Regions from separate parts of the Homo sapiens genome. Here region 2 is linked to region 1. Evidence: fine-mapped expression QTL. Tissue or cell type: fibroblasts. Region 1 holds a variant in brackets; the other region holds the start of a gene. All regions are shown on one strand. Distances are from middle to middle.

Region 1 (10,092 bases):
GTGCGCGCGCGCGCGCGCGCGTGTGTGCTGTGAACATTTAAGATCTATTCTCATCCTGGGAAACAGCTAAGACCTCGTCTCTACAAAAAAATGGAAAAATAGCCGGGCATGGTGGCATGTGCCTGTAGTCCCTGGTATATAGGAGGCTGAGGTGGGAGGATCACTTGAGCCCAAGAATTTGAGGCTGCGGTGAGCCATGATCATGCCACTGTACTCTGCCTGGATGACAGAGTGAGACCTTTTCTCTCTCTATTTAAAAACAAACAAAACGAAACGAAAACGAAAACTGCAAGTATACAATATACATTACATCTCTAGAATCTATTCATCCCGCCTAACTGAAACTTTGTAACTTTGAGCAACATCTCCCATCTTTCCTACCTCTGAAGCCCTGACAACCACCATTCTATGCTCTGCTTCTATGAATCTGAATTTTTTAGATTACACATATACATGGGCTAATGTAGTATTTGTCTTTCTGTGCCCGGCTTATTGCACCAACATAATGTTCTCCAGGTTCATCTATGTTGTCACCCATAACAGGGTTTTCTTTTATAAGGCTGAATAATATTTCATTGTATATATATTGAGTTAAAATTATAAACAGCAAACCTGGGATATATGTTCTAAGAGGGCAGGGACCTTAATTATCTTGTTCACTCTTCTCTATGACTCCAGAACTTAGAAAGTAGCACTCTAAACGTTTTCGCTTCCGTGCCTCATAAAAGTATTTTAAAAATTCATATCCCAGTGTATACTTTTAAAAGTTGACATCGAGCTAGGCACAGTGGCTCATGTCTGTAATCCTAGCACTTTGGGAGGCTGAGGCAGGCAGATTTCTTGAGCCCAGGAGTCCAAGACCAGCCTGGAAAAAATGGTGAAACATCGTCTCTACCAAAAATACAAAACATTAGCCAGGCATGGTGGTGTGCACCTGTAGTCCCAGCTATATAGGAGACTTAGGAGGCAGGATTGTTTAAACCCAAGAGTTTGAGGTTGCAGTGAGCCATGATCTGGCCACTGCACTCCAGCCTGGGCAACGGAGTGAGACTCTGTCTCAAAAAAAAAAAAAAAAAAAAAAAAAAGACATCTAAAAACTCTTTTCACAACTTCTGGGAATGGATTATTTTCTGGCATGATGTTTCATAAGTGCTCTCACTATATTTTCGTCAAAACTGTGGATTTGCAAGTTTAGCTTGTCCAATTTATGGAACATGTCGGCCATATTGTTTCATTGGCAAAGCCAGTCCTCTTTGTCCAATTAAATAATCCAAATTATTTTACTTAATTTTTAACAAGCTTAAAGTTTGCCTTTATCTTTTTTCCTTTTAAATTAATTAATTAATTTTACCCAGAACTATATAAACTATCCTTTATTTTGTAAATCAAATAAAAGTGTTAATATACCAGTCCTTCCTTATCCGTGGGAGATACATTGCAACACCCCTCAGTGGATGCCTGAAACCGTGAATAGTACCAAGCCCTATATATATACTATGTTTTTTCAATCCAGTAATTCAGAGGGCTAATAAGTGACTAATGGGTGGGTAGTGTAGACAGCATGAATTTGTTGGGCAAGGGGGGATTCATATCCTGGGCAAGACAGAATGGGACGGTGGAGATTTCATCATGCTACCAAGAAATGGCATGCATTTTAAGACCTATGAATTGGTTATTTCTGAATTGGTTATTTAAGCCTATGAATTGGTAATTTTCCACTTAATATCTTGAGCACATAAGTAGGGGGGACTACTGTGCATGTTCCTGAAATGGCATTTGCAAAATTATGACAGTAAGAGAAATTTGACATCTTGCTTCACAGGCTGTCTGTCTTTGCTCATTTCTGGGCATGGGCCAAGCTAACTTTGTGGAAAATTTAGTTTATAGTTGAAATGATATTAGCCCTTCCCCAAAATCAAAGTGTTCTTGTAAAACTAATGCAAGGCAACTAAACTATGAGAATGAGAGGGACTTGAATTCTAAATAATTGTCAGCCATTATTCTGGAGGTCAGATTTGCAACTTCTGCAATAACTCTTGCAGATAACATTACTATTGTAGAACCTAAGATTGGCCTTTTGAGATGTCTTTTCAGGTTTGTGCATTTCTGACAACCGGGTGGCCCCACCTGGACCCACCAGTCAGTCCTGTGGCCCCTACCCAGGAACTGACTCAGCACAAGAGGACAGCTTCGATTTCTTATGATTTCATCTCCAACTCAACCAGTTAGCATGTTCCCTACCCTACCCCACTGCCCAGCAAACTATATTTGAAAAACCCCTAACCTAGGAGCCTTCAGGGAGATTGATTTGAGTAATAACTCCGTCTCTTACACTGTGTGGCCAGACTTGTGTCAATTAAACTTTCTTTATTGCAATGCCATGGTGCCCATGAGTCAATTTTGTTGTGCAGCAGGCAGGAAGAATCCACTGGGTGGTTACATCACTCTGATACCTTATTTCTAAGTTCTGAGAAAGATGGAGGGAGGGATGGACAAGCTGGTGGATAGACAAAGGGATAGGCAGATAGATCTCTATCTTCAAGATAAAGGAGGAAATAAAAACAGTCAATCATTTTACTAAGCCCTCTTTGTTTAGCGCTCAAGGATATGCCCTGTGGAAAAATAGGTTCTTCAATGAGAACACTTGGACACAGGAAGGGGAACATCACCCACCGGGGCCTGTTGTGGGGTGGGGGGAGGGGGGAGGGATAGCATTAGGAGATATACCTAATGTAAATGACGAGTTAATGGGTGCAGCACACCAACATGGCACATGTATACATATGTAACAAACCTGCACGTTGCGCACATGTACCCTAGAACTTAAAGTATAATAAAAAAATATATCTATATATATATATAAAGAAAGTGTTTTCAAAAAGAAAAGGAAAAATATGTTCTAGAAGTGTCCCTTGTTCAATTCCTGTTAGTTTACACCCAGGCAATGTGGAGTCCTAATTTAGGGAGGGGGAGTTGGGCTGGTAAGGATGAAGGAAAGCAAAAAGAAAAGGCAGGTAAGCTATAAGTCTACCTTTCTTCGTGGTTCAGGATACATAGTCCTCCTGTGCAAATTACTCACCATCTTCCTGCACCCAGCTATTACCAGACACCTCAGCTGATAGAAAAATGCAAGTTAGCTCACTGCAACCTCAGCACTATCAGTACTGCACAAAGCCCTCTTAACACACAGCCCAAGCACCATTCTGTCAAATCCCGAGCAAACGTTTGTTTCCTGGCAGTCAGCTCCTCTCTTGCTGATTTGCTTGTTGCACCCTTGCAACATACTTTCCTGCTTTGTCTAATAAATCTGCCTTTCTTTACCTACAACTGTATTGATGAATTCTTTTTACCACCTGCGTGACACGGGCCCCAGAGAGTCGCTACCCACGACAGGCAATGGAAAAGGGTGCTATGCTTTTCTTTGTGGAAGGGGAGATGTAAAAGGAGAATTGGAAAACTGAGTTTGCAGGCCAATCAATTTTAGAAAAGAGTATACAAAAATTCAGGATTTCCCTAGTATATCTGGGCCCACAGATCCCTTTGAAGGGTCTTCCCAACTGTGCTATATGCACCTCAGGGTACAGGACTTCCAAATCTCCCAACCAAAAAAAGGGGGGAATTGGGTACTAGCCCAGGTGGAGAGACTGGCAAAAGTGAGAGCATATAGGAATTTGTAAGTTGTACAGGACTTCCTGTACCCCGAGGTACGTATAGCCCAGCTGGGAAGACTGTTCATCTTGTTGACCTAAAGGAAGAAACTGAAGCAAAATTAATATAAGTAGAGAGTCTATTTGGGCCAGGGTTGAGGTCTACAGCCTGGGAGTCATGGATTCAAGTTGCCCTGAATATATGCTCCGATTAGCAGCCGTTACAAGTGGATTAAAGATTAAAAAAAAGATGAAAAAGTTAGGATGCAGTTCCTAAGCTGCTTACCAAGAATTTACAATGGTTCATTAAAATAAGCTATCATTTGTCTATACATTGATCTTTGTACCACAAACCCCAGGAACGTGAAGATAATAGGTGAGGGTCACATTGTGTAACTTGTGGTAACATTGTGGGTAATTTATCAGCTAGTCTGAAATTACAGAAAA[C/G]GAAAGAGAAAACAAAATGCCTCTAAGCAATTACCCCCAGGCATGGGTGCCGAGGATGTGACAGGTGTCTCCTGCTCCTGTCTGGGCCTAACCAATTTTGCATATCTCACATTCCTCAGACTGCTCTGAGCCACTTTCTCAATGTAGAGCAGTGCTTGACACAGGGCATTGCTCTAAAAGTGTTTCTTAATTGAATGAGTAGGAAGGTTCTATGCAGTGAGACTAGCAAATGCAAATGAGGCAGGAGCTAAGTTTAGAGTATGGTCGATGATGGACTGCTCATGTGATGATGGTACCATAAGATTATAATGAACCTGAAAAATTTCTATCACCTAGCGACAACCTTGATGAGTCTGACCCTGTGTAGGCCTAGGTTAATGTGTATGTTTGTGTCTTAGTTTTTAACAAAAGAGTTGTAAAAGTGGGAAAAAACCTCTAGAATAAGGCTATAAAAATGTTTTTGTACCTTTGTACGTTGTTTTGTTTTAAACAACTGTTATTATAAAAGAGGCAAAAAATTAAAAAATTAAAATGTTTATAAAGTAAAAATGTTACAGTAAGCTAAGGGTAATTTATTACTGACGAAAGAACATTTTTAATTTTTTATTTCTATTTTTGTAGAGATGGGAATCTCGCCATTTTCCCAGGTTGGTCTTGAACTCCTGGGCTTAAGGGATCTTCCTGCCTCTTCTGGGTTTACAGGCGTGAGCCAACATGGCTGGCCAAAATTTTTAAAGTAAATTTAGTGTAGCCTAAGTGTACAATGTTTAAAGTCTACAGTAATGGACAGTAATATCCTAGGCCTTCACATTCACTCACCACTCACCCACTGATTCACTCAGAGAAATTTCCAGTTTTGCAAGTTCCATTGATGGAAAGCCCCTATACAGGTGTTCTTTTTTTAATCCTTTTTTTTTTTTTTAATTATTGTTTTGAGATGGAGTCTCGCTCTGTCACCCAGGCTGGAGTGCAGTAGCGCCATCTTGGCTCACTCCAACCTCCACCTCCCTGGTTCAAGTGATTCTCCTGCCTCAGCCTCCTGAGTAGTTGGGATTACAGGCATGCACCACCATGCCCGGCTCATTTTTTGTAATTTTAGTAGAGACAGGGTTTCGCTATGTTGGCCAGACTGGTCTTGAACTCCTGACCTCAGGTGATCCACCCGCCTCAGCTTCCCAAAGTGCTGGGATTACAGGCGTGAGCCACTTCACCTGGCCCTATTTTTTATCTTTCATTCCCTAATTTTACTGTACCTTTTCTATGTTTAGAAACACAAATACGTCCATTGCATTACAGTTGGCATTACAGTATTCAGGACAGTAATGTGCCATACAGGTTTGGAGCCTAGGAGCAATAGGCTACACCATATAGCCTGTGTGTGGAGTAGGCTCTACCATCCAGGTTTGTGCAAGTACACTCTCTGATGCTCACACAACAAAATTGCCTAATAGCACATTTCTCAGAATCTGTCCCCATCGTTAAGTGATACATTACCGCATTTGAAAAAAAAAAGGCCGGGCGCGGTGGCTCACGCCTGTAATCCTAGTACTCTGGAAGGCCGAGGCGGGAGGATCACGAGGTCAGGAGATCGAGACCATCCTGGCTAACACGGTGAAACCTGTCTCTAGTAAAAATACAAAAAATTAGCCGGGCGTGGTGGTGGGTGCCTGTAGTCCCAGCTACTCAGGAAGCTGAGGCAGGAGAATGGCGTGAATCCGGGAGGTGGAGGTTGCTGTGAGCCGAGATCGTGCCACTGCACTCCAGCCTGGGTGACAGAGCAAGACTCTGTCTCAAAAAAAAAAAAAAAAAAGGAGGGGGGGATTGGGTACTGGCCCAGATGCAGAGATTGGCAAAAGTGAGAGCATATAAGAATTTGTAAGTTGTTGGGGCTCGGAAACCGATACCCCAAAATATGGTGCTTTGACATACTGAAGCGAAGAACACTCAAGGTTTCTCTGACCTTCTCCCTCACCCCATCTTTCCCAAAGAAGTTACAGTTTCTTTATCTGCCTGAGATCCAGACACACTAAGTAAGGCACATCAAGGACGACTCTTTTTTCTTCCCTTTCCTGTAAAACCAACAGTGTAGCCACACTTGAACAGACCTTTTCACAAGATAATGTACACGTTAATATCTGTTCCCTAATCCATCCATTCTCCCTAAAAATCCCCTCAACAGAACTCCTCTTCCCCCACTCCCATAATCTGTTTTGCCAGGATGACATATACACTTAGGCACCACCTTGCGGGGTGAGCAATTAATTACTCAGTGGTTGCACTGAGTAATACACAGCAAATTTGTAAATACCCTGTGTATATACCCTGTGAATATACAGCAAATAAACTTGTATGCCTTTTTACCCACTAATCTGCCTTTTGCAAGTTGATTTTCCAGTGAAACTTCAGGAGGCCAAGGGGAAAGCTTTCCCTTTCCCTTTACCCACGTAAAGTCAAGGCAGGGGTTTTTTATTTTATTCTATGCACAATGGGAACCATTAGAGGGTTTGGATGAGTAGATGGGTGGTGAATTTTTGTTGGGTGGTGTTGGCTGGGCACGGTGGCTCACGCCTGTAATCCCAGCACTTTGGGAGGCTGAGGCGAGCGGATCACGAGGTCAGGAGGTCGAGACCATCCTGGCTAACACGGTGAAACCCCGTCTCTACTAAAAATACAAAAAATTAGCCGGGCGTGATGGCGGGCGCCTGTAGTCCCAGCTACTTGGGAGGCTGAGGCAGGAGAATGGCGTGAACCCGGGAGGCGGAGCTTGCAGTGAGCTGAGATTGCTCCACTGCACTCCAGCCTGGGTGACAGAGCGAGACTGCGTCTTAAAAAAAAAAGAAGGGTGGTGTTATGGGCTGAAATGTATTCCCCCAAAGTTCTTAAAGTCCTAACGCCCAATATCTCAGAATGTGACTATTTGGAAATAGGGTCTTTAAAGAAGTAATAAGTTAAAATGAGGTCAAGAGGGCCAGGCAAAGTGGCTCATTCCTATAATCCCAGCACTTTGGGAGGCCAAAGTGGGCAGATCAACTGAGGTCAAGAGTTTGAGACCAGTCTGGTCAACATGGCAAAACCCCATCTCTACTAAAAATACAAAAATTAGCTGGGTGTGGTGGCATGCACCTGTAATCCCATCTACTCAGGAGGCTAAGGCAGGAGAATCACTTGAACCTGGGAGGCAGAGGTTGTGGCGAGCTGAGATCGCGCCACTGCACTCCAGCCTGGGTGATGGAGAGAGGCTCCATCTCAAAAAAAAAAAAAAAAAAAAAGAGGTCATGAGGATGGGCCCTAACTCAACATGACTGGTGTCCTCATAAGAGGAGATTAGGACGCAGATACAGACACACACAGAGGTAAGACCATGTGAACACACAGGGAGAAAGTGGCCAAGGAAAGAGTCCTCTGAAGACACTGACCCTACCTGCCAGGACCTTGATCTCAGAATTCCAAGAAGTTCAGGTCAGCAATGATAAATCAAAATGGTAGCAGAAAAAAAAATGGATAGATTTATGATATATTTTAGAGACAGAATTGGCAGAACTTGCTGGTGGATTAGGAGTCTAAAAATGAGGACATGGGTTAAGAGTGTCAAGTGGCTGGGCATGGTGGGTCACGCCTGTAATCCCAGCACTTTGGGAGGCAGAGGTGGGCAAATCATGAGGTCAGAAGTTCGAGACCAGCCTGGCCAACATGGTGAAATCCCATCTCTACCAAAAATACAAAAATTAGCCGGGAGTGGTGGCGGGTACCTGTAATCCCAGCTGCTCAGGAGGCTGAGGCAGGAGAATCACTTGAACCCAGAGGTGGAGGTTGCAGTGGGCTGAGATCGCACCACTGCACGCCAGCCTGGGCAACAGAGTGAGACTGTCTTAAAAAAAAAAAAAAAGAGTCAAGAGAAGAATGATGAGGTTCATAAATTTGGAGAGGACAGCTTTATTTCACATAAAGAGTTGCATGCTGCAGGTGGCCACTCTGACAGGCTGGAAAGTGTAGCCTCCAGCCAGTAGCTGAAAACATGCACTTTGAGGGAAGGGCAGAGGAAAAAAGAATGTGTGCTGAGCAGGTGGCCAAATATATATATTTAATAAGCTGTAGGAGGGGTCACTAATATCTATGAAAGGAGAAACGTGTGCCTGCGCAACTGAGCTTCATGCCCCTTCATGGGACCCCTGTACAAAACATGGTGTCCTTACCATGATCTGAGGGTGGAGCTTCTGGGCCTCTGATGTCAAAAGGCGAAGGGGAGGATATGAAAACCCTCCCTGCACATCCGTTGTAAACTGGCCAGAACCATTCAGTGGTGGGTGGCCTCTTATCAGGAAGGAATGCATGTTGGTTGTTGTGGTGAAATGGCAAAAGGGAGGGGGAGTTGGTGGAAATCAGCGGTGAAGCCAGGCTTTCCAAAGGTCTGGTTTCTGTTTAGATTTTAGGAAAGAATGCCTACTGGAAGCTAGGGAGGGCGGGGGTATAAGGAGGTGTGTCCCACCTCCAGATGCCGTCCCGGGCTCTCCTTGGCCAACAGGATAGGACATCCATTCAGTCCGTCATGGGGCTTAGGATTTTGGTTTTACTTCTCAAGAGAAAATGAACTGACTAGGAAGAAATGAAAAAAGCTATGGGGAGGGAAAGAATGACTGGAACCTTAAATTTTCCTTCTAGTGGTAAAGTTTTAATGACCCAGCTCTGATCACACACTACTTGTTTCCATAGGGAATAATGTTGATTTCCCCATCAATCTGTAAATGCTGTTTACTAGTTTTTAACTTTCTAAATCAACTCACAGCAGAGGAAGCTTTAGGATTACATGATTACAGAGCAGTGCGTAAATGTGATACCCTTTTTTAAACTATATAAAAATAATAATGTAACTAAGAAAAATTAGAAGTTGTGGCTGGGAAGGAGAAAGGGTAAGTATGTGCCATAATGTCCTCATCTTTATGGTGATGAGTGGAGAGGTCTTACTGAAGATGATGAATAAAAATAATACAGGCCATTTTTATTTTATTTTATTTATTTTTGAGACAGAGTCTCACTCTATCGCCCAGAGGTGGAGTGCAGTGGCACAATCTTGGTTCACTGCAACCTCCGCCTCCCAGGTTCAAGCAATTCTCCTGCCTCAGCTTCCCAAGTAGCTGGAACCACAGGCCCACACCACCCCGCCTGGCTAATTTTTGTATTTTTAGTAGAGAAGGGGTTTCACCATATTGGCCAGGCTGGTCTCAAACTCCTGACCTCAGGTGATCCACCTGCCTTGGCCTCCCAAAGTGCTAGGATCACAGGCATGAGCCACCGTGCCTGGCCTACTGAGCATTATTTTATTTTTAAATTTTATTTATTTATTTTTTTAGAGACAGAGTCTCGCTCTGTCACCCAGGCTGGAGTGCAGCGGCATGATCTCGGCTCACTGCAACCTCTGCCTCATGGGTTCAAGCAATTCTCCTGCCTCAGCCAAACGAGTAGCTGGGACTACAGGCGCATGCCGCCACACCCGGCTAATTTCTTCTGTATTTTAGTAGAGACAGGGGTTTCACTGTGTTGCCCAGGTTGGTCTTGAACTCCTGAGCTCAGGCAACCTGCCCGCCTCGACCTTCCAAAGTGCTAGGATTACGGGAGTGAGTCACTGCACCTGGCCCAGACCATTGTTAAAAAGTGGAAACCACCAGATAAACTACTGTGAGTGGTAGATTGCAGAGGGTGGGGGTGTCTTTTATTGTATATCTCATACCCTTCTACAGAATTGTGAGAATTTTTTTTTTTTACTGTATTGCCAAAGGATGAATTATAGCCAATTTAAAGATCTCAGTTGGCTTTATTGCAATTCTACAATTGGGCAATGCTTCGGTCCATGAAATAGAATCAGTGTTCCAAAGCGCTGAGCAGAATAGGCTGGCTTCATAGAGAAGGCCTGAAGGAAGCAGAAGCTAAGAACAGGATGTATTAGTCCTTTCAAAGTTACTTTTCTCATAAGATAGGGACATAATAGAATAATAGAAAAATA
Region 2 (10,092 bases), 49 kb before region 1:
ACACATGGCCCCTCTTGCCTGGCCTTTGAGCACCAGCCTCCACCCTCGCTGCCTCTGCTGCAGAGGTGACTGCAGCCAGGCACTCACTGATGCTTGGGTTGAGTCCTCTCCCGTGGCCCAGGATGGAGCCGCTGACTCTGAAACTCAGTGGCAAGCTCCCCCCAGCTCCCAGCACAGGGCAGTCCCCTCAGAAGACTTGCTAAGTGTGTTCCCCACCCCCTCGACTCCAAGGCAACCCCTGGCATTTATGTAAACTTTTATTTATTTACTTATTTATTCTGAGACAGTGTCTCGCTCTGTTGCCCAGGCTGGAGTGCAGTGGTGTGATCACAGCTCACTGCAACCTCGACAGTGTCTCGCTCTGTTGCCCAGGCTGGAGTGCAGTGGTGTGATCACAGCTCACTGCAACCTCGACTGTGTCTTGCTCTGTTGCCCAGGCTGGAGTGTAGTGGTGTGATCACAGCTCACTGCAACCTCCACTTTCCTGGGTTCCAGCGATTCTCCTGCCTCAGCCTCCCTAAGTGCTGGGATTACAGGCCTGAACACTGTGCTGGGCCCGTTTTAAACTTTTTTTTTTTTTTTTTTTTAAGAGACGGAGTCTCACTCTGTCACCCAGGCTGGAGTGCAGTGGTGCATTCTCGGCTCATTGCAACCTCTGCCTCCTAGGTTCAAGCAATTCTCCTGCCTCAGCCTCCCAAGTAGCTGGGACTACAGGTGCACGCCGCCATGCCCAGCTAATTTCTTTTCTATTTTAGTAGAGATGGGGTTTTATTGTGTTGCCCAGGCTGGTCTTGAACTCCTGAGCGCAGACAATCTGCCCGTTTCAGCCTCCCAAAGTTGTAGGATTACAGGGGTGAGCCACCACGCCCGGTCTTAAACTTAATTCTCAGCCACCTTATTATTCTCTATTGACAGTAAGAGGTGGGGGGAAAAAAACAGGCAGAGCACTTAGTGCCAGGCTGTTGGCAGGTATTTTCACATTAAACACTGGTCTCCTCAGCCAAAGCTCACAATCCAGTAAGACAGTCATTTTAGCTGAACATTCTCATCTAACCCTAGGGTTATGCACCGAATTGTGTCCCAGAAAATTCACAAATTGAAGCCCCAATCCCCAGTGTTACTATATTTGGGGATAGGGCCCTAAGGAGGTAATTAAGGTTAAAAGAGGTCCTAAGAGTAGGATCCTAATCCAGCAGGATTGGTATCCTTCTAAACAGGGGAAGAAACACCAAAGAGCTCTCTCTTTCTCACTGTGTGTGAACAGAGGAAAGGCCACATATATGACACAGCAAGAAGGTGGCCGATTACAAGCCAGGAAGAGAGTCCTCACCAGAAACTGAATTCCAGCACCTTGATATTGGACTTCTAGCCTCCATCCAGAATAGTGAGAAAATGAGTATCTGTTGTTTAAGCCACCTAGCATGTAGTATTTTGTTACAACAGCCTGAGAAGACTAATATACCTAGAGACCCAAATGTAAAGGCTTCTTGGAACCCAAGCTGATAGTCACTGAAGCATTCCTGGCTCTGAGCAGGTCTGTTAACCAGGGTCACTGCTACTTCTAGGTTTCTTGGGACCCAAGGCCCACTGGAGTTACAGTCCGATAATTTTTTTTTTTTTTTTTAGACAGAGTCTCGCAGTGACATGATCTCAGCTCACTGGAACCTCCACCTCCCAGGTTCAAACGATTCTTCTGCCTCGGCCTCCCAAGAAGTTAGGATTACAGTTGCCCGCCACCAGCTATTTTTTGTATTTTTAGTAGAGATGGGGTTTCATATGTTGACCAGGCTAGTCTCGACTCAAGGACTCAAGTTATCCATGTGCCTTGGCCTCCCAAAGTGCTGGGATCACAGGCATGAGCCACTGTGCCCAGACTATAGTCCCATTCTTTTCCCTGCCATCATCCTCTAAAACCAGGTTCCAGCTCCCTTCCTGTATTCCCTTGGCCCTTATTCCTATATTTTTCCTGGTACTCACCATGTCATTCCATTGGCTCAGGAACTCATCTGCAATGCAGGGAAATTCTTCAGGAGATTGTTTTGTTGCCATTTCCTCATGAATGGTTCCCTCTTTGAGAAGCTTCAGACATGACTTTAAATTTCACTTGCGGCAGGAGGGGCAGGGAATGGGAGTTCCCATGCCAAGGAAGGAGGTAGAGTTTCCCCTGCTTCATCCCCCATGCTGGGGGGAAAAACCTTTAAGGAGCAATCAAGAGCTCCTTTATGGAGCCCATCTGGCTCTGAGGAGGGGCTGGGTCATGGGCCTCAGCTGCTGCAGAGCCCCTCCCTCCTGAGTACCCAGCTGCTTCTGTCTTCCCCTAGTGAGGAAACAGTTCCTGTTCCCAGGGAGTCCACCCCAGCCTCAGGGCTTCATCACAGCAACTAATAAATTAGCCTAGGATTGGAGAGAGGGCTTTTCAAGGCAACAGAACCAGCACAGACTTCAGTGAAAATGACATAGGTTTTGGAGTCAGACTAACAAAGCTGTGATTTCTGGCTGTGAGCCTTTCTGGGGGATCTTAAACCAGGCACTTTCATCTCTGAACTGCAGTGTTCTTATATGCTAAATAGGAAAAGTGATCCTGGCTTTGCAGGGTTGTAATGAAGATTTCCATTGTTTATGGAAATAGACATGTACGGCATTCACTCTCTTCTTCCTGAGTCAGTCTTGCTGATACATCTGAACTGTAATTCCCTTTCTGAATTTTGGGGTGGCGTAGGATGGGGGAGTGGTGAAAGAGTGGCAGCCTTTTCAAAAGTCTGATTTGGACCAGGTGCCATAGCTCACGCCTCTAATCCCAGTGTGGGAGTCTGAGGCAGGAGGATTTCTTGAAGCAAGGAGTTCAAGACCAGCCTCGGCAACAAAGCGAGACACTGTTTCTCCACAAACATTTTTTTTTTAAATTAGCCAGGTGTGGTAGGCTGAGGCAGGAAGATCACTTAAGCCTAGGAGTTCAAGGCTGCAGTGAGCCATGATTGCGCCACTGCATTCCAGCCTTGGCGACAGAGCAAGACCTGTCTCAAATAAAATAAATAAAATAAAACAAAAATAAAAAGTCTGATTTATCCTTTGTTGTTGTTCAAGAAGTATGCCCTCAGAAAAAGCAGACTAACCACAATTGCTGCCCAAGCACATCTTTAGAAAGGCAAATCCACCCTCCAAATGATACATTAGTGAGCAATCATTCAAAGACTAAATGTTGATGTGGGTCTTTTTGGCAGTTGGGAGTGTGTATGCATGCATGCATGAATGAATGAAAAGTCTGGCTTGGAGGGATTTACTGGGCCTTTGGGGCATTCTCAGCTTTCCTCGGATTACCCACTCTCCCTTCCCTTTGGGCTGCTTTGGAGAGAGACTGCGAGGTACTGAGACCAGCAACTTGGGAAGTGCAGGACATGCCTTGCAAAGACAGATACTTTCTGGGAGTAATTTGTCTGCCTGTTCTGCAGACACTTGGTGATACCACTTTGGGTATGTTATGCCCTGTAGTAGAGACAGTCTGCTAGCTAGACCCACATCTGCCCCGCATCTTGTTTTGCTATTGTGAAACCAAACAAAGGGGTAGCCCGGGGGGGACAGGGGAGGGCGAAAGAACACAATAAGGTCACAGGGCCCTGCTCTAAGTGTGTCCCTGTGCACATGCCATAGGGGTTGGGGACCAGAGACAAGATCCCCCTGGTGCTGAGGAAACAGCAATGGATTTAGAGCCCCGAAGACTGGCATTTAAGTTCTACCTCCTTACTGGCTATGTACGTTTGGGCAAAATAGTTTACCTTCAGAAGCCCTGTTGCTTCACATGTAATATGCAAGTGCTAACAAAGCCATCTCAGGGCTGGTGTGAGGAATAAATTTAACATTTATTTATTATTCACTTTAACAGTGAATGCAAAAGGGCTTAGTTGAAGAGTAAAATACTAAAAACCTATTGTGGTTAAGACTTTGGCTGTGAGTCAGATGATTGGTGTGTTTGACTATATTATTGTCCACCAACATTCAGTGTTTTTCCCGAGTCAGGCTGGGTCATGTGACTTGGCCAAATGTGAGCAGAAGTGCCCCATCAGTTCCAAGGGGACATTTAAAAGCTTTTATTAGCAATTCCGCAGCTCTCTTTCCTCTGCCCTAGGGATGGGGGGAGCATGTGTGAAAATGGGGCCCTGGGGAGTTGGAGACCTGAGTGATTAGAATGAGCACAGCTCCCAGGCTACTGCTGGATGGGCCCCTTATACCAGCCGGTTTAGGCCACTGGGATTTGGGGGTTGATTGTTACTGCAGCAAAACCTAGCCTGGCATCACCATACAGATAGGTGCCGTTTCTTTATGCAGTTTAATAGAAAAACAACAAAACAAAACACTCACAAAGAAAACACACAGAAAATAATAGCAAACACAACGCAGCCTTGGGGAGATGGCAGGCGAGCCTGAGCTGGGTGCTATTTGCTGCTGCTCTTGGGAAGAGGTCGGTAGACCCCGACCACCACAGCGTGGTCCCGCTCATAGGGCTCCAGGGTCAGCTGCTCTTGAGGCTTCAAGTTCTCCTGCTGCAACTTCCTCACCTCAGAAGCAAACACAGCCTCGGCGGATGCGGTGGAGTCGATGCAGTTGGCCTTGATGGAGATGAGAAAGTGGCCCCCATTGCGCAGGAAGGTGTGGGCGTTCAGGGCCACGATGCGGGACTGGTCCGGCTGGGCCACGTCGGCGAAGATCACGTCCACCATCCCGATGAGCATGCGGTACTTGAGCGGGTGCCGCGCGTCCTCCAGGACCGGAATGATGTTGGTGCGCTTCTTGGCCACGTTGACCAGATCGCGGCCGGCGCGGTGGGAGAACTCGACGGCGTAGACCAGGCCGTCTGGGCCAATGATGTCGGAGACATGGGAGACGGTGGTGCCCGACGCGGCGCCCAGGTACAGCACCTTGGACTTGGGCTTGATGTGGATCTGGTCCACCCCGCCCAGGATGGCCGCGGCCAGCTTAGAGCGGAACGGGTTCCACGTGCGGTACTCCTGCTTCACGCCGCCCTCGGTCACCGTGACGCGCCTCTCGCCGTACACAGACTGGCCCGGCACCATGTTCAGCGTGACCAGCGCGTCCTCCGCCCCGCGGTAGATGAAGACGCCCTCGTGCCGGTGCGGCTCCACCGACACCACCATGGCGCCCTTCCTGCGGCGGCTCTTGCTCTTGGCCACGCCGCCCCGCCGCTGTCCACCGCCGCCGCGATCCTTGCCGTCGCCGCCGCCGCGCCCCCGGCCCCGGCCGCCCCCGCCGAAGCCGCGCGCCCGCGCCCCGAAGCCGCCCTTGCCCCCCTGGCCGCCGCCGTCGCCCCCGCCGCCCTTGCCCGCGCCGCCGCCGCCGCCTCGGCCCCCGCCCCAGCTGCCCCAGCCGCCGCCCCCGCGGCCGCCCCCACCGCCCCCGCGCGAGCTCGCGGCCGACTTCATGGCACGCACCGGGGCGGGTGCCGTGGGTTACCGGTGCCTCGGGGCGGGTGTCAGGGGGCTCTGGTGGCTCTGGGTGGTCGTCCCGGCGGTTGTCCGCGGGTTTAGCAGCGGAGGCGGGCGGCGGGCGGCGGGCGGCGGGGGCAGGACGGGCTCTACCGCAGTGCCCGCATCCCGGAGCCGCCCCTTGACGCAGCGGCTGTGGCGCGATTGCATCACACCCGTCCCCGCGACCCTGCGGCCCGGAAGCCCCGCTTCCCAGCCCGCGTGCAGACGCAGCCTGCTCCTCTTCGCTCACCCTGCCCCTTCCCCATCTCCCGCCTTCCCAGGGATCCCTGGCACTTCCCTGGGCCACAGGGACGGGGGCGTCTCTGCTGCAGGAGAGGGGGAGGTAAGCATCAGCGTCGGTCCTGGCTGTGCCACCAGTTCTGGGACTATTGATCAGCAAGGAAGTGTTGTTGATTCTTCAGTGTGAATGGGGATACACAGAGAGCCAAAATGTCATGTTCATCCTCGAAGTCTAGTCTATGCTTCAAAGTCACTCTCTAAATCTGCAGCATTTTCTTGAGGAAAGAAAGAAAAAGAGAAAAAGAAAGAAAGAGAGAGAAAGAAAAGAGAGAGAGGGAGAGGAGAAGAAAAGAAAAGAATAATTGGGCAGCACCAAGGGCAGCAACGAGAAGAAAAGAAAAAAAGAAAAGAACAGAAAGAAAATAAAAGAATAACTCGGCACCACCAATGGCCCCAAGGCCGCAACGCAGAGGCTTTAGGGTTTAGTCAGCACCAGGGACAGCGACAGCAGTTGGGGCCCCCGTTTTGGCTACTGCTAGGGGCTTTGGGAACCACACAAGAGCTGGGGAAAGTAGGATAGGTGGTGAAACAACTGGCCAGCCTCCCGTTAGTTGAATTAAGTGTCTACTCGAGAGAGAGAGAGAGAGAGACAACGCGCACCTGAAGATCGGAGCATTTACTGAACACCTGGTATGTGCAGTATGACTTCCGTTCCATCCTGGACCACAGCTCTTCCCGTCTCATACTCATGGACGACAGTGCCAGGTCTGATTTTCCCTGAGGACTGGAGTGTCTCCTTAATGGGGACCAGAGTTTTATACACTGGAATGTGAACAAGGGATCAGTGAGTGAAATGTATGATTCCTGAGGTTGAATGGTTCACATAAAATACTCTACTTAGAGGTTTCCATTCTTGCTATAAGGTGAATATTTTCCAAAATGATGAACTACACTTGGTGTCTGTGAGGGTTAATTTTATGTGTCAACTTTACTGGGCCATGGGATGCCCAGATATTTGGTCAAATAGTATTCTGAGTGTTTCTGTGAGGGTGTTTTTTGATGAGATTAACATTTAAATTGGTATATTGAGTAAAGCTGATTGCCGTCTACGATGTGGCTGGGCCTCATCTAATCAGTTGAAGGCAGAAATAAAGCAAAATGCTGACCTTCCCCACGGAAGAGAGAATTCTCCTGCCCAAGGGCCTTTCAACTGGCACATCAGCTCTTTCTGCCTGACAACCTTTGGACTGGGACATTGGCCCTGCGGATTTTGGACCTGCTGGTCTCCACAATCACATGAGCCAATATATATCCTATATATACACACATATATATATCCTACAGGCCTGTGTCTTTGGAGAACCTTGAATAATAGAGATCCTGAGACAAAGCCTTGAGTCCAATTGGTTTGTGAGGTGATCCCAGGAAGCACATGTTGGGGAGGCAAAAATGAGATAGAGAAGATAGAAAGGTTAAGAAAGAACTGGGCACAGTGCCTCACACCTGTAATCCCAGCACTTTGGGAGGCCAAGGTGGGAGGATTGATTGAGCCCACGAGTTCAAGACCAGTCCTAGCATGATAGCAAGACCCTGTCTCTACAAAAATAAACAAGACTTAGCCAGGTGTCATGGTGTGTACCTGTAGTCACTGTAGTACCTGTAGTCACTGTAGTACCTGTAGTACCTCAGCTACTGAGGAGGCTGAGCTGGAGGGGTCGCTTGAGCCTGGGAGATCAAGGCTGCAGTGAGCTGAACTCACACCACTACACTCCAGCTTAGGTGACAGAGGGAGACCCTGTCTCAAAAAAAAAAAAAAAAAAAAAAAGAGGGTAGATTAATGAGTAGATGACCACAGTGGACAATGGGAGCTCAATTGCTGTGAGTATTCTGAGAAACTGTGTGGAAGGCATCTCAGAATTGTTCTACTGCAGGTTGGAGGCTGGGGCATTAATCCACTGTCTTAATTTGTTTCTATACCTGAGACTGGGTAATTTATAAAGAAAAGGGCTTTATTTTTTCTTTTTTTATTCTAAGATAGGGTATCACTCTGTCACCCAAGCTGAGTGCAGTGGCACAATCATGGCTATTGCAGCCTTGATCTCCCAGGCTCAAGCAATCCTCCCACCTCAGCCTCCTGAGTAGTTGGGACTACAGGTGTGTGCCACCACACCAGGCTAAAATTTTATTCTTTATAGAGATGGAGCCTCACTATGTTGCCCAGGCTTGTCTCAAACTCCTGGACTCAAGCAGTTCTCCTGTTTCAGTCTCCTAAAGTGCTGGGATTACAGGTGTGAGCCACAGTGGCCAGCCAGGTTTCTTTCTATATAGGTATAAACCATCATGCCTGGCAATTTTTTTTTTTTTTTTTTTTACTTTTTGTAGAGATGAGACCTCATTATGTTGCCCAAGCTGGTCTCCAACTCCTGGCCTCAAGCCATCCTCCTGCCTCAGCCTCCTGAGTTGCTGGAATTCTAGGCACAAGCCTCCACACTTGGCACCATGTATACTTTTGTTTACAATTGACTTGTTATTCCAGAAGATGTGCCCTAAAGTAATGATCATAATTACATCTGTGACTAGGCCTCAGTAGTAGACATAGTGCACATCAATCATTCCCATAGACTTAAAAAATGCATGAGGAATTTTGCTTATTTTCTCACAGAACCATTCCAACAAATTGCCCAAGGAGTAACTAGCCATGATTGACATGAAACCAGAGGTAATACTCTATAACCCCATCTCCATTCTCATTATACTTTAAGCATCCATGCATGAAGAAACTTGTTTTCTCTAAGCCATGGTCCACCTCCAAAGGTGACTGACTGTAGGGATCTGATCTCCACCCCAGTGACAGGTGCAGCTATATTTGCTCAAGAGGAGTTGGGCTATGATGCAGTAACATAGAACTCCAAAATCTCAATGTATTAATACAGCTATGTTTAGATTTCTTATGTTTTATGTCCACTGAGAGTCAGCGGGAGGTTTGCACCACACAGCCACTGAAGAACTCAGGCCCCAACATCTTGTGGCTGCAACATGAGAAAAAAGAGGGCCTCCACTGTACTGCTGAAGAATAGAGTGCAGAGAACTCACAACCTTTTTGTATGTTTAGTCTGGACTTTGACACAATCATTTCTACTCACCACGGATTGCAGCCTTGATCTCCCAGGCTCAAGCAATTCTCCCACTTCAGCCTCCTGGCTGATGACTGGCCAAAGCCAGTCACATGCCCTGCCTAGCTGAAAGGCAGCTGAGATATGTGGGTGCCATAACTGGGGAACAGTAAATGTTTTTACCTAGGTGTCTACTGCATAATGCCAGCTGGCACACCTGGATCAGTGCACCAAACACAAACACCTCAGGTGAAATTTACTGTTTGGCGTGCATATATTTAAATTTACTCGTCAAGACAAAATATAATACCTCCTTCCTAACACGACTAAAACTCACAATCTTAGTCAACTCCCAATAATATATCTAATATAGCTGGTTAATTAATTAGAAAAAGAGAATCTTCTCCCTTTTTGTAGCCTCTGGGACTTGGAAAGTAGCTAAAATCCCTTATTTGGGATGTCATTATTGTTTGGCCATTACTTCTGCTGGGGGACACTTCGTCTCTTGGTGGCTCAGACTCTTACTCCATTCCCCACTGTAGAATTAGTGGCTGCCATTCAGGAAATGCTCAAAAAGCTTAGCTGGCCTACTTTTGCAAAGGTCTTCTTTCCACAAGACACCTTAGAAATTCTCTGTAATTCTTCATTTTATAGAATAAGAATCTGAAATTTGGGCTGGGCGTAGTGGCTCATGCCTGTAATCCTAGCACTTTGGGAGGCTGAGGTGGGTGGATCACTTGAGCTCAGGAGTTCGAGACCAACCTGGAAAACATAGTGAGACCCCATCTCAATACATAAAAAAAAAATTCTGGCCGGGCGTGGTGGCTCACACCTGTAATCCCAGCACTTTGGGAAGCCGAGGCGGGCGGATCACAAGGTCAGGAGATCGAGACCATCCTGGCTAACACGGTGAAACCCCGTCTCTACTAAAAATACCAAAAAATTAGCTGGGCGTGGCGGCGTGCAGCTGTAGTCCCAGCTGCTGGGGAGGGTGAGGCAGGAGAATGGTGTGAACCTGGGAGGTGGAGCTTGCAGTGAGCCAAGATCGTGCCACTGCACTCCAGCCTGGGTGACAGAGTGAGACTCCATCTCAAAAAAAAAAAAAAAAAAAAAAAAAAAAAAAAAAAAAATATATATATATATATATATATATATATATATATACAAGCTATCAAACTCCTACAATCTAAAATCCCCACAAAAATTACAGTGAGTTTAACTGTGCTCCCCTTCAATCCATTACATTTTATAAGCACCAT

Which allele goes with the higher level. Alleles are on the strand shown, and positions count from the first base shown. SD is a standard deviation of normalised expression in the study named.
As copies of G replace C in region 1, the expression in fibroblasts of the gene that starts at base 5,635 in region 2 goes up (large effect, 0.75 SD a copy in GTEx).

What was found. PIP is the estimated chance that this variant, and not a neighbour inherited with it, causes the effect.
Region 2: FBLL1 starts here. The variant in region 1 is fine-mapped to the expression of FBLL1 in fibroblasts (GTEx, PIP above 0.99). The same link has a PIP of 0.9 or more in T cells, esophagus mucosa, lung, ovary, spleen and thyroid.

The regions. Positions count from the first base shown.
Region 1 is chr5:168,475,639-168,485,730 of GRCh38, reverse strand. No RefSeq gene overlaps it. Among named protein-coding and RNA genes, the nearest start is that of RARS1, 5.8 kb to the left of the region's middle. RefSeq lists an enhancer at 4,001-4,110. The variant C/G (reference allele first, on the strand shown) is at 4,095.
Region 2 is chr5:168,524,848-168,534,939 of GRCh38, reverse strand. It overlaps FBLL1 (fibrillarin like 1), which reads right to left and starts at 5,635. Exons shown (of 1, transcript NM_001355274.2): 1 at 4,306-5,635. The coding sequence starts at 5,435. The coding sequence ends at 4,431. RefSeq lists enhancers at 3,762-3,931, 4,787-5,328 and a silencer at 6,182-6,476.